Linked DNA regions of Homo sapiens: region 2 is linked to region 1. A link means that fine-mapping ties the variant in region 1 to the expression of a gene that starts in the linked region. Tissue or cell type: whole blood. Region 1 holds a variant in brackets; the other region holds the start of a gene. All regions are shown on one strand. Distances are between the middles of the regions.

Evidence for each region. PIP is the estimated chance that this variant, and not a neighbour inherited with it, causes the effect.
Region 2: KDM2B starts here. The variant in region 1 is fine-mapped to the expression of KDM2B in whole blood (TOPMed, PIP 0.98).

Annotation. Positions count from the first base shown.
Region 1 is chr12:121,440,958-121,445,957 of GRCh38, forward strand. KDM2B (lysine demethylase 2B) reads right to left here. Exons shown (of 23, transcript NM_032590.5): 14 at 4,318-4,461; 15 at 3,493-3,579; 16 at 3,055-3,315; 17 at 2,723-2,836; 18 at 2,035-2,073; 19 at 1,200-1,879; 20 at 113-276; 21 at 1-20. It overlaps MIR7107 (microRNA 7107), which reads right to left and starts at 3,395; the gene lies at 3,316-3,395. The variant C/T (reference allele first, on the strand shown) is at 2,140.
Region 2 is chr12:121,578,131-121,583,639 of GRCh38, forward strand. KDM2B (lysine demethylase 2B) reads right to left here and starts at 2,893. Exons shown (of 23, transcript NM_032590.5): 1 at 2,656-2,893; 2 at 672-816. The coding sequence starts at 2,781. It overlaps KDM2B-DT (KDM2B divergent transcript), which reads left to right and starts at 2,381. Exons shown (of 4, transcript NR_183427.1): 1 at 2,381-3,133. RefSeq lists silencers at 935-1,014, 2,174-2,483, 2,564-2,613 and enhancers at 2,183-3,118, 4,054-4,989, 4,990-5,509.

The sequences.
Region 1 (5,000 bases):
CAGCACCAAGTCCCGGAGCCCTGGGGGGACATAGAAAAGGGTGAAGGTCAGGGGATGTGTCCCCAGCCCTCACTGCAGCAGACACACTCGGGGCCACTGGCCCAGGGCTCACCAGGCAGCCGGTTGATGAGCCAGCTCAGCTGCTTCTTGGAGATATTGGTCCAGCTGAGGTCGAGGGAGACGGGCTGTCGCCGGATGATGCCACTCAGCATCAGGGGTGTGATAGACTTGCAGTGGTTCAGGTCAATGCGGGTCCACAACCGCTTATCGCAGCACCTGGGGACCGGCCCCGTGGGGACACATCGTCAGAGGTGGGGCTCCTCTAGGGAGCCCACACACAGCTCTTAACTGTCCCCACCTAACAACCTCTGGGAGGCTCCTTAACTCAGCGCTCTGGACCCTTCTCTATGTAGCACCTATCCTGCCCCCACGCGGGCACCTCCCACCTGCTCTAACAGCCATGGCCTCCACTCTCCATCAAGTATGTATGTATGTATTAAGACGGAGTCTCGCTCTGTTCCCAGGCTGGTGTGTAGTGGTGCAATCTCTGCTCACCACAACCTCCGTCTCCCAGGTTCAAGCTATTCTCCTGCCTCAGCCTCCCGAGTAGCTGGGATTACAGGTGTGCGCCACCACACCCGGCTAATTTTTTTATTTTTAGTAGAAATGAGGTTTCACCTTGTTGGCCAGGCTGGTCTTGAACTCCTGACTTCAAGTGATCCGCCCGCAAAGCGCTAGGATTACAGGCATGAGCCACTGCGCCCGGCCTCCATCAAGTATTTACCATGGGCTTTACAACGCCCTCTACCGGCCGTTCCTCCAAACAACCCCCATGAAGCTGGCGTCATGCCCGTTCATCCAAGAGGGTAAGGCAGAGCTAAGGCCAGAAAGCTGGTAAATATCGGCTGGACTGAAGTTGCAACTCGCAGCCTTGCTGGAAACCTGGACTAACTCTCCGAAGCCAAGGACTCCACGTGGTCCTCACTTCACCCTCCAGGAAGCTAAATCGGAATAAACGGGGTCACCTCCTCTGACAAGACCAGAGGGGCCGCTGTAGCCAGCTGGAACGCTTTGCGGAGCACAATGAAGCCATACTGGGGTTTGGAAGGAAAGAGCATCGCCAGCGACTCCACACACCACGGGCCATCCCTGGTGCCGCCTGAGCCTTAACCTAGAGCCCTACACAGGCCGCCGCTCACCAGCGGTTCCAGGTCCTGCAGACCCGCATGCACACACACAGGTCTTGGTGGCTGAGGTAGCTGAAGACGGCCATCCACACCTCCCTGTGCATGACGTGGGCTGCCCCATCGTCCAGGGGTAGCGAGTCAGGCGGGGGGCTGATGGGGGGTGGCCGGATCACATGGCGCTCCATCTGGATACACTTGGGCGGGGACACGGAGGGTGGGGGCCGGGAGATGACACGGGGCGGGCTGCGCAGGCTGGGCCCCAGCTGGTGCCGCAGCTCCCGGGGGGTGCCGTTGAGCCCCTTGCTGAAGCGGTGGGGACGCTCGCAGATGCCCGGGGGCCGCTTGGGCTCCTCGCCCTCGCTCTCAGGCTCCGACTTGATGGGCTGCTGGTTCTCGTTGGCCAGGCTGTTCTCCGTCCTCTGGATCTCGTGGTTGAGCTCCTTGCTCAGCTCCCTGCTCAGCTCCTTGTTGGGAAGCCGCCGCTTCCGGCGCATCTTCACCTTCTTCTTCTCCTCCGGGCCCTCGGCCCCTTCGGTGCTGGGTCCCGCGGTGGGGGAGCTGGAGCGGGAGTGGTCGCTCTCCCTGGTCTTGGGGGGCGCCTCGGGCAGTTCGTCCTCGGGTTCCTGCTTGAAGCGCCGGAGGGGCTTGTTGGCCAGCGCCATGCGGTCCTCGGCGTTCTTCCAGGACCGCCGCTGAGGGCGAGAGCGGAGACGCGTCAGCCTCTGGGGCTCAGGGCTGCGCCCGCCCAAGGCCTCCCGCCCCCCTGCCACGGGACTGTGGCCCAGGGAGCTGCGGTGCAGCTCTAACCGCTCAGGCCTGGGGCACAGGAGGGAGGGGAAGATGGTACCTTTTTCCTGAAAAGCTTATCTTCTTTGCCAGGTTTGAGCTGTCACGAAAAAGAAAGGACGCAGAGCTTGCTCCCCGGGCTCGTGGGATTTGGTCTCCTCGACAC[C/T]CCACCCCACCACGAGTCCACAGTCTCCAGAGGAGGGGCTGGAGGGAGGCCTTCCCCACAAATGCCATCTCCACGTCTGACCGACAGACGGGCGAGCCCTGCCTGCAGCTTTCAAGGAAGAAGCTGGAAGTAGGAGTACAGTTGAACTGTTCCCACCCAACTGACCTCCCACCCCACAGACCTGGAGATGTGCAGCCGCCCATTCAAATCATCCTCGGCTCTGGGAGCCAGTTCTGGAGCACAGCCCTGTGGGAATCCCCGGCCCAGCAGGAATGGCTAGAGCTGGGAGAGACTCCTGGCGCCACCTTGTGGCTGGTGACAGCACGGCCCGTGGGTGGAGCAGGGCCACCAGGCTCCTCAGAGGTTCCCTGGACTCACAGCTTCCATCCCAACCAACAGAGGCTCTAGGCACAGACAGCTTCCCAGGCCCCAAGCCAGAACCACGAGCCAGAGATCTGGGGCCGAGACCTGGGAAGCCTCAGGAGAGGCAGCAGTGGGGTGGAGGACCAGCGGGGTGGGGTGGGGGACAGCCCAGGACTCGCCAGTCCCCGGGGCCTCAGGAGGGCGTGCGTCGTGGGAGCACCTGCTGCTGGAAGTAAGTGAGACTGGATCTCCACCAGGGGCTGAGGCTGCTGCCTAGAGGGGGCCTCGGCGAGAGGTGAGAGGAGGAACCGGGGGACGTTTGAAGCGATGAGGCCTAAAGGGGGGTGGAGTGGGAAGAGGAGTGACTCGCTGGTTTTCCCCTCCTTTCTTTGGGGCAGGGCTCTCAGGACTTAGGTGACCTGCTCAGGGCAGCAAGAGGCCGGGATTATCCCAAGCTCTACCTGCTGCCCACCCCCTGCCCCATCCCTCCAACCCAGCACCCGGGACCAGCCAGACCAACCCCTTTGCCTCCCAGCCCCTCCTGGTCCGTACCCGCTTGCGTCCACTCAGCTCCTGGGGCTTCTCGTATTTCCGCTTCTTCCTCAGGTGCACGTCGTCAGACTTTCTGCGCAGAAGGCCGTCCGGCGGCACCTTCTTCGAGTGCTCATCCGACCTGCGCCGGGGCGCCTCCTCACACTCACTCCTCCGCTTGGCAGGTTCCTGCCCTTCCTTGTTGTCCCGGTTCATCTTCTGCTCCTTGAGCAGGGAGCCGGGCAGGTTGGAGGCGTACTTAAAGCCAGGGCCACGCTTTTGCTTGTAGGCCAAAAAGAGAGAATGAACAGACCAACTGTATACCTTTGGACTTGCCCTTCCTCCTCCCCAGGCCGACGGCAACCCACCTGCCTGAAACTCCTGGGACAGGCTGGTCCCGGCCAGGCCCAGGCCCGCCCCTCTCCCGACTGACCCTGGGACTTGGAGCCCGGCACTCACTTTCCCGGTCTTGCCGGCGTGGTTACACTTCGGACACTCCCAGCAGTTTGGAAGCTCGTCGTTGACCACACCCTCTGACTCCTTAATCTGCGGGGAACACCAGGACTCAGAAGAGGGACGGGCGGAGAAGATGGCCCACGGGCACAAGGCTCTGTGACGCCACGTCTTCCAGAAGCAGCAGCACCCCCTCCCCAACGTCACATCTATCCCGTTTCCAGGCAAAAGAAAACACAGCTGCAGAGGCTGGCAGAGACGGGCAGCTGTGGATCCAGGCCAGGGTTCAGAGGCTGAGCCCCTTTGCTTCTCTGGGACCCTGGGCAAGACACTCCGTCTCTGTGGGCTGGTGCCCTCGGCCATAAAAGTTAGTGTGCCCATCTCACTGGGGGGGTATGACCCAGGTAAAGCCATGAGCTCAGCGCCTGGCATGCAGAAAGGACTCTGCAGAGGACTCTACTGGGTGCTGGGGGAAGGAGTGTGGTGTGGGGCCTTGTTCTCCCAGAAGCCTGGAGCCACCTGGAGGCGCTTCCTCTGGCCCAGCTACAAACAAGCAGCCTGTGTTTGCCATCTGCTGAGGCTCTGGAAACCCTCTCTGGTTCTGACATCCTGGGAGGTGGGGGTGTGTTTATTCCTTTGATGACACTGGGTCTCTGAGGTACTCCAGGCCCTCCTTGCCCCGGGCTTATCCCTTGACACACAGGATCACCCAGACTCAGGGGTCCTCCAGGAATTCACTGCACGACCTGCATCCCACCATCTCACCAGCATCTCCAGCAACCCTACCTGCCCCAGAGCGTCAGCACCACCTGTCCCCACTGGGCCACTCACCTTAAGGCATCCAGGGTGGATGATTTCATTGCAGATGGAGCACTCCATGAGCATGAGGTTAAACTTGCCTTCCTCCTCTTCCACCGTGTCTTCCTTCCCCGCCTCGCCACACACAAGGCACACGGCGGTGTGGGGCAGCACTGGCTGAGGAGCCAGGGAGAACAAGACAAGTCATCAGGGGTGGGGAGCACGGACCCCCAGGGGGGCCAGTTCAAGGGCAATGAGCTGCTCCCCTTGGGCCTGCCAGGAGACCCCCGGAAAGTGGCCCAGGCACATTCGCTCACTCATTCATTGAAATACGTATCAGGCTACTACCTCCACATGCCAGATACTACTCTTAATTGCTGGGGATACAGCAAGGAACAAGACAGCTCAAAATCTCTGCCATCCAGAGCTTACATTTTAGTGGAGGGAGGCAGACAAAATGGACAGAGCATGTTAGAGACAGAGACATGGGGAAAAATTAGAGGGCTGGAGTGAGGGGCAGAAGGGGGGCTGATTTTAAATATGGAGGTCAGGGAAGGCCTCACATTCAGAAAAGCCCCAAAGGAGCAGGGGCGTGAGCGCAGCCCAGATCCATGCGGATGAGATGAAGCTGCATCTCACCAGTGGGTATTCAAGGCACAGACCATGGACTGCGGGCTCCCAAGACCTTTACAGAAAGGTTAGGAGGTCAGAACTGT
Region 2 (5,509 bases), 140 kb after region 1:
CCCTGACCCCAATTCTTGGCTTCAACCTATCAAGGCTGTAGCGCTAGACAGCTCCGGCCCAGGTAGGGGTTCAGGTCAACAGCTTCAGGGCTCATGGGGTCCCTGATCCAATCTGGCAGAGCCCATGGGGGAATGCGGCTCTGCGGACCCCAGGCCTAAGGGGGCATCGTCCCAAACACCCGACGCGCCCCCATCACCAGTTCCTCACTGGCAGGCCCCAAGCGGGAACGGGATTGGGAAGGCTTCGGGCCTGGGGGGCCTTACCCCGATGCCCCAGGGGCGCCCTGAACCCAGTTCCAGCCAGGCGGCGGCACCTCAGGCAGCGCAGGGAGCGCGACCGGCTCGGGGAGGGGGAGGACGCGGCGCTCCCGCCCTCCCTCGGTCCGCCTGTCCATCTCCAGGTCCCTCTGTCCGCCGGCCCCCTGGCTCTGCCCACCCTGGGGCTGGTGGTGGGCGCGGGCCGGGCCTAGGCCCATGCCCGGCCCCCCTTACTGCCTGCCCTCCTCCCTCACCACCCCACCCCACCCCCCCAGTGCTCGGCCTCGTTTCGTCACCGGATCCCCTGGAATGGGGGACGCGGGCGCGAAATACGAACCCAGCCACCGGCAGCTCCCTCCCCACGTGCGCTCGGCCCGCAGCGCAGAGGGCGGCCCGGGGTGGGGGCGCCTCACCTTTGCCCTCCATGGCGTGCACGAAGTCCCCCTGGTACAGCTGGCTGCGAAGCTTCTCCTCCAGGCTGAAGCCGCGGACGCTGACGATCTCCTCCACGTCCGACAAGTCCTCGTTCTCGTCGTATCGCTGGCGGTCAATCGGGCGCTGCGAGGACCCAAACCAGAGAGCCCGGGACATTATTGTGGGGGCTGGAGGTCGCCTCTCAACCTGGGCCCAGCACTAACAGGTGCAGCAGCCGAGCGCCCCCTGCACCCCACCATTGCAACCCAAGCAACTTTGCGCAATTGCCAAAGATGCTGAAAAGCAGGACAAGGAGAGGGGCCCGCACCCCGAGGGTCCAGCTGCGCTCTACGCGGGGTACTCCCCTCCGGTGTCTTCGGAAGCACTGAAGGGACATCTGGGGACCCTCCCCTGCCCCCCGCCCCCGAAATGTGCTGGGCTTCGCCCACTCGGCCGGGAGCCTGGTTATGTAACCCGCGAAGGGGGCTCCGGACACGGGCTGGCGGGGCAAATGTAGGCCCCAGGAGGAGCCGCTGCGGCGCCCGGCTCGGCGGTAACAGCAGCCCCAGCGGCCGCGGCGGCAGAGCCGGGAAGCCGGAACCGGGGGCCGGCGGCATTTCTAAAGCTGGAGCCGCCCCCGAGCTACCGGGGAAGCTGGAAAGCTGAAATGGAAGGGCTGAGACCCCAGCCGCCCCCGCCGCCCGCCCGCCAGTGCAAGAAGAGGAGGTGGGGGGAGGAGAATCGGGGCTTGGAAGGGGGAGAGGCAGACGGCCCGCCACAAAGCTCGGATCGGAGACCCCAAAACGCACCAGCAGCTGCCTCATCTCCCCACAAGCGCGCGCGCACACTCACTTCCTAAGGAGACTCCCCCACCACTCCCCGCATCCCCCTGCCTCCTCCCTCCACCGCCCAGCGCCCGGCCCCTCAGCCCCCCAGATTCCGGGCGAACCCCGAGCCCGCTCAGCCCCCCTCCACGCCTTTCCCCGATACCACCTCCCCACTTAAGTGTCTGAGACTCTAAGCCTCACAAGGGGCTGGAGGAGTAAGCAGCTTGCTTCCTTTTGCATGCAATTTATTATATTTTTTTCCCGGTCCTCTTGCAAAATACAGAAAAGGAAAGAAAAGGCAGCGAGAAACAACCAAAAAAAAAAAAAAAAAGATCTATCATATGCCAGATACAGATTTGGAAAAAAAAAAAAAAAAAAAAAGCTACACACCAATCTTCTTCCAGAGTCTTTCTCTGCCTCCATTTTTTTAGGAGAGTTCACCAATTAATTGTCAACACTCCTGCCCCCTGCATTTTGGCCGAGGGGGGAAGGAGGGAAGACCAAAGAAAACAAACCAAAAAATAAATAAATAAAGCAAGCCAGAGCCGAGATCTACAAAGTTTTGCACCAACACTTAGGCAGATCCGTTTGCAAAGTCCTAGGAAACCATTTTCAGCAGTTGTGGGGGGGGGGAGGCGTCGACGTCATAATCCCCGGAACGTAAACATTGTTGCCGATCGCGCTCGGAGCCCGCGGCCGGGCTATTTGGGGGGGCTCTCGGCCCGGGCTTGGGGGGGTGGGGGCGGCGGCCCGAGGAGGTATGGGGCGGGGAGGGAGCCCGGGAGGCACCGGGCGCCGTTAGCGCCGTGGCATCGCTGTTTTGTTGTTGGGTCACGAGTGCGCCTCTGCACGCAGGCGCCGCCGCCGCCCGGGAGTTGTGTGCAGAGCTGACTTTTGGAGGGCCGAGTTGCAGGCGGCGGGCGCATCCCGGAGATGGCGGGGCAGGGAGGGAGGGAAGGAGGAGGGGGCGGGGAGGGAGGTGCAGATTTGCACGGCTGGCCTCAGCGGGAGGCGCGGAAATGCAAGCCGAGCATGCTGGCGTGAAAGCCCCCGGGGCCTGGCACCCCCAAAAACGACCCCCCACCTCCGTTCCTGCCCTCATTGCCCAGGGCTACCCCTCTTCCTCTTCTTTCATCCACCCCTCCCCCAACATTACCTGTGTGGCCGACTCAAATTCAAAGCATTTTGTATATATAACTGTTTTCTTTTTTTGCTTTTCTGCTGCATGTCTTTTTCGTGGGGGGTGATCCTCTGCAGATCCCCCCATTTGCGGACCCGCCATGTGGAGGAGGCATTTGGGGGGCTCAGAAGGAAATTAGCTCGGCTTCCATACCTATAAGGACTGCCTAACTTTTAAACTCCCGGCACTCAAAGATGTGGACACACACACGTACAGGAAATACAGCCAGACCAGAGCCTTTGCAGTCCGCAGCTGACCGGAAGACGTTGCCTTTCATTCATTCATTCTGCCCGCCTCTGTGGACTCCTTTACTAGGCGACCAGCCCTGAAACAGAAGTTGGACATTTTTTAAAGGTTCTTGCGCTCGGCAAGGGGAGCAGATAGATGCTCAGGAGCGAAAGACGCAGAGAATTGGATCTGGCGCCTCCTAACGCAGCCCGCACAGGAGCGAAGGGTAAGCCCTTGTTGGTAGTTTATAGAAGACAAGTCGGTGGAAAGGTGCATGGTGCTCTGGGATAGGTGGGGGGAACTCTAGTGCCCTTGATGAAGCCCCTACAGGGCTTCTTAGCGGAGGTATCGGCACCCTCCGTACATACATGGGTGTCATTAGGTCCCTGTCCACTTACTAGTGTTTTTGACTACCCCAGCACTGGTCCTGGGTTGTCTTGTCCTCCCATCATGAGCAACAGTCAGGTCGACTTGGCTTGAGAAAAGCTAGCCCTAAACATTCCTCCAGCCCCAGCTGTGGCGCCCTGCTAGGCCTGATCTTGCGGGTAAAGATGCTGATAAAATGACATGGCAAGAGGGAGACGATAAAGGGACATTGTAGATAGCAGGCTTTGAGCCTGACATTTTATTTCTGCCATAACCCTGTGGGATACTTGGAGCAGGTCATTTTGCAGATAGGGAAACTGAAGCTCAGAGAAATTATGAATCTGAATGATTGCTGTGCTCCCATATGGTCCCCAGGCTATCAGACAGACCTGTGGGGAGGACGTGGCTTCCCCACCAGGAGATACGATGTCACTATCAGCATCGTATTGGCCGTCCTAAGAGACAGCTTCCCCCTCACTCACCTTAGAAGTTTCCTGTCCTATCTGACTGTAGTCTTTCCCACCCATCCTCAAAGGCTACTCTTTGAAGTTTGTTTTCATTCATGTTCACTAGCTGTAAAAATCTTTTAAGCAGGGATGAGGCTGGGAAACATCAAAATTTGTTTCCAAACTGAAATCGCCCACGTTGGCTGCTGCGTGCAATCAGTAGCCCTTCGTGTGAGTGCTGCCGGTTCTGCCTTCAGTCCGTCCAGAACCATGGACCATTTTATTTGTTCCTGTCTTTCTCACAAGAACCCTTTAAGGGAAATCGTCTTGTTCGTTCCCATTTTGCAAAGGAGGAAATTAGGACTAAGAAAAGCAAAGCCACTCACCCAGGATCACATAGCGCGTATGTGCCGCTGCCAGGGCTCACACTGGAGCCTGGCTTGGCCATCACGTGCTTTTTTTTTTTTTTTTTTTTTTTTTAGTAACTTACCAGCCTCACTACTGCCCCATAATGAAATAAACATGTTCAAAGGAGGCTGCATGGGCTGGAGAGTGACGCAAAGTGAATTAAGTGAAATAAAGCAAAAAATATATAATAGAATGCTTCATCTAATTAATTCTTTTTTCTCCCTGAGGCCCTTCTTTCTCTCCAAGTGGCCTCATAGTGGCCCCAAAAGCTGGCATCAGAAAAAGGTCCAATGGCAGCCACCTTAGTATAAAAACAGTTAAGTCCATCTATCACCTCCACGAGGAGTTCCTGGCCTGTCAGAGTGGGAAGGGGCTGGGTAGTCACCTCATTTAATCCCCCCCCTTTACAAACCTCGAGGAAACCGCAAACACGAGAAAAGAATGGGCCAGCCGGGGGTTTGTTCCCCTTGGCCTCCCCCAGAATGCCTGCCCTGCTGCCGGGTCCTAAGTGGCCACTCAATAAATGTTGGGCCCTTGATGAATCACCTTCCCCCTCGATATTTGCATTTTCTCTTTATCAGTAATTGGCAGATGAAAGGCTTTGTCCTCCAGTTGAAAGAATTCCAAGCATTTGCTCAAAGTGGGGGAGGAGGTTATTTTGGACCAAAGGGGGAAGGGCCAAGACCCTGGAGCTCCCAGTGTTGACTAATTGTCCCAGAGAAGTGGAGAGTAGGTAAGGGAAGAGAGAAGGTGAAGGTGCTTACCCCAGAGATGTACTTTTTCTTGCAGGAAAACACCGGGCCGGTTGTATTGGAAACATAATAATAATTATTTCCTGGACCCTCCTGCTCGATCTTACAAAGGGCCCAGTCAAATCCTGCCTGAGTTACCCCCATTCATTCTTCATTCATCAAAGGTTGATTGAGCAACTCTGTGCCCAAAGACAGAGAGGCTAGAGAAAAGAAGATGCAGCGTGGGGCATGCAGATTGGGGCATACTCGAGGCTGGGTAGGACGATGGACCTGCAGCTTCCCAAGGAAAGGGTGGACACTGGATGTAGCTCTCAGAAACCAGAATCTTGATAAGAAATTGAAGTTGTTCTCATATTCATATATGATTATCATAACTCCTGATTTTTCTTTTCTTTTTTTTGAGAGAGGGTCTTGCTCTGTTGCCCAGGCTGGAGTGCAGTGACACAATCTCAGCTCACTGCAACCTCCACCTCCTGGACTCAGCAATGCTCCACCTTAGCCTTCCAAGTAGCTGAGACTACAGGAGTGCACCACCATGCCCAGCTAATTTTTGTATTTTTGGTAGAGACAGGGTTTTGCCGTGTTGCCCAGGCTGGTCTCCAACTCCTAGGCTCAAGTGTTCCTCCCACC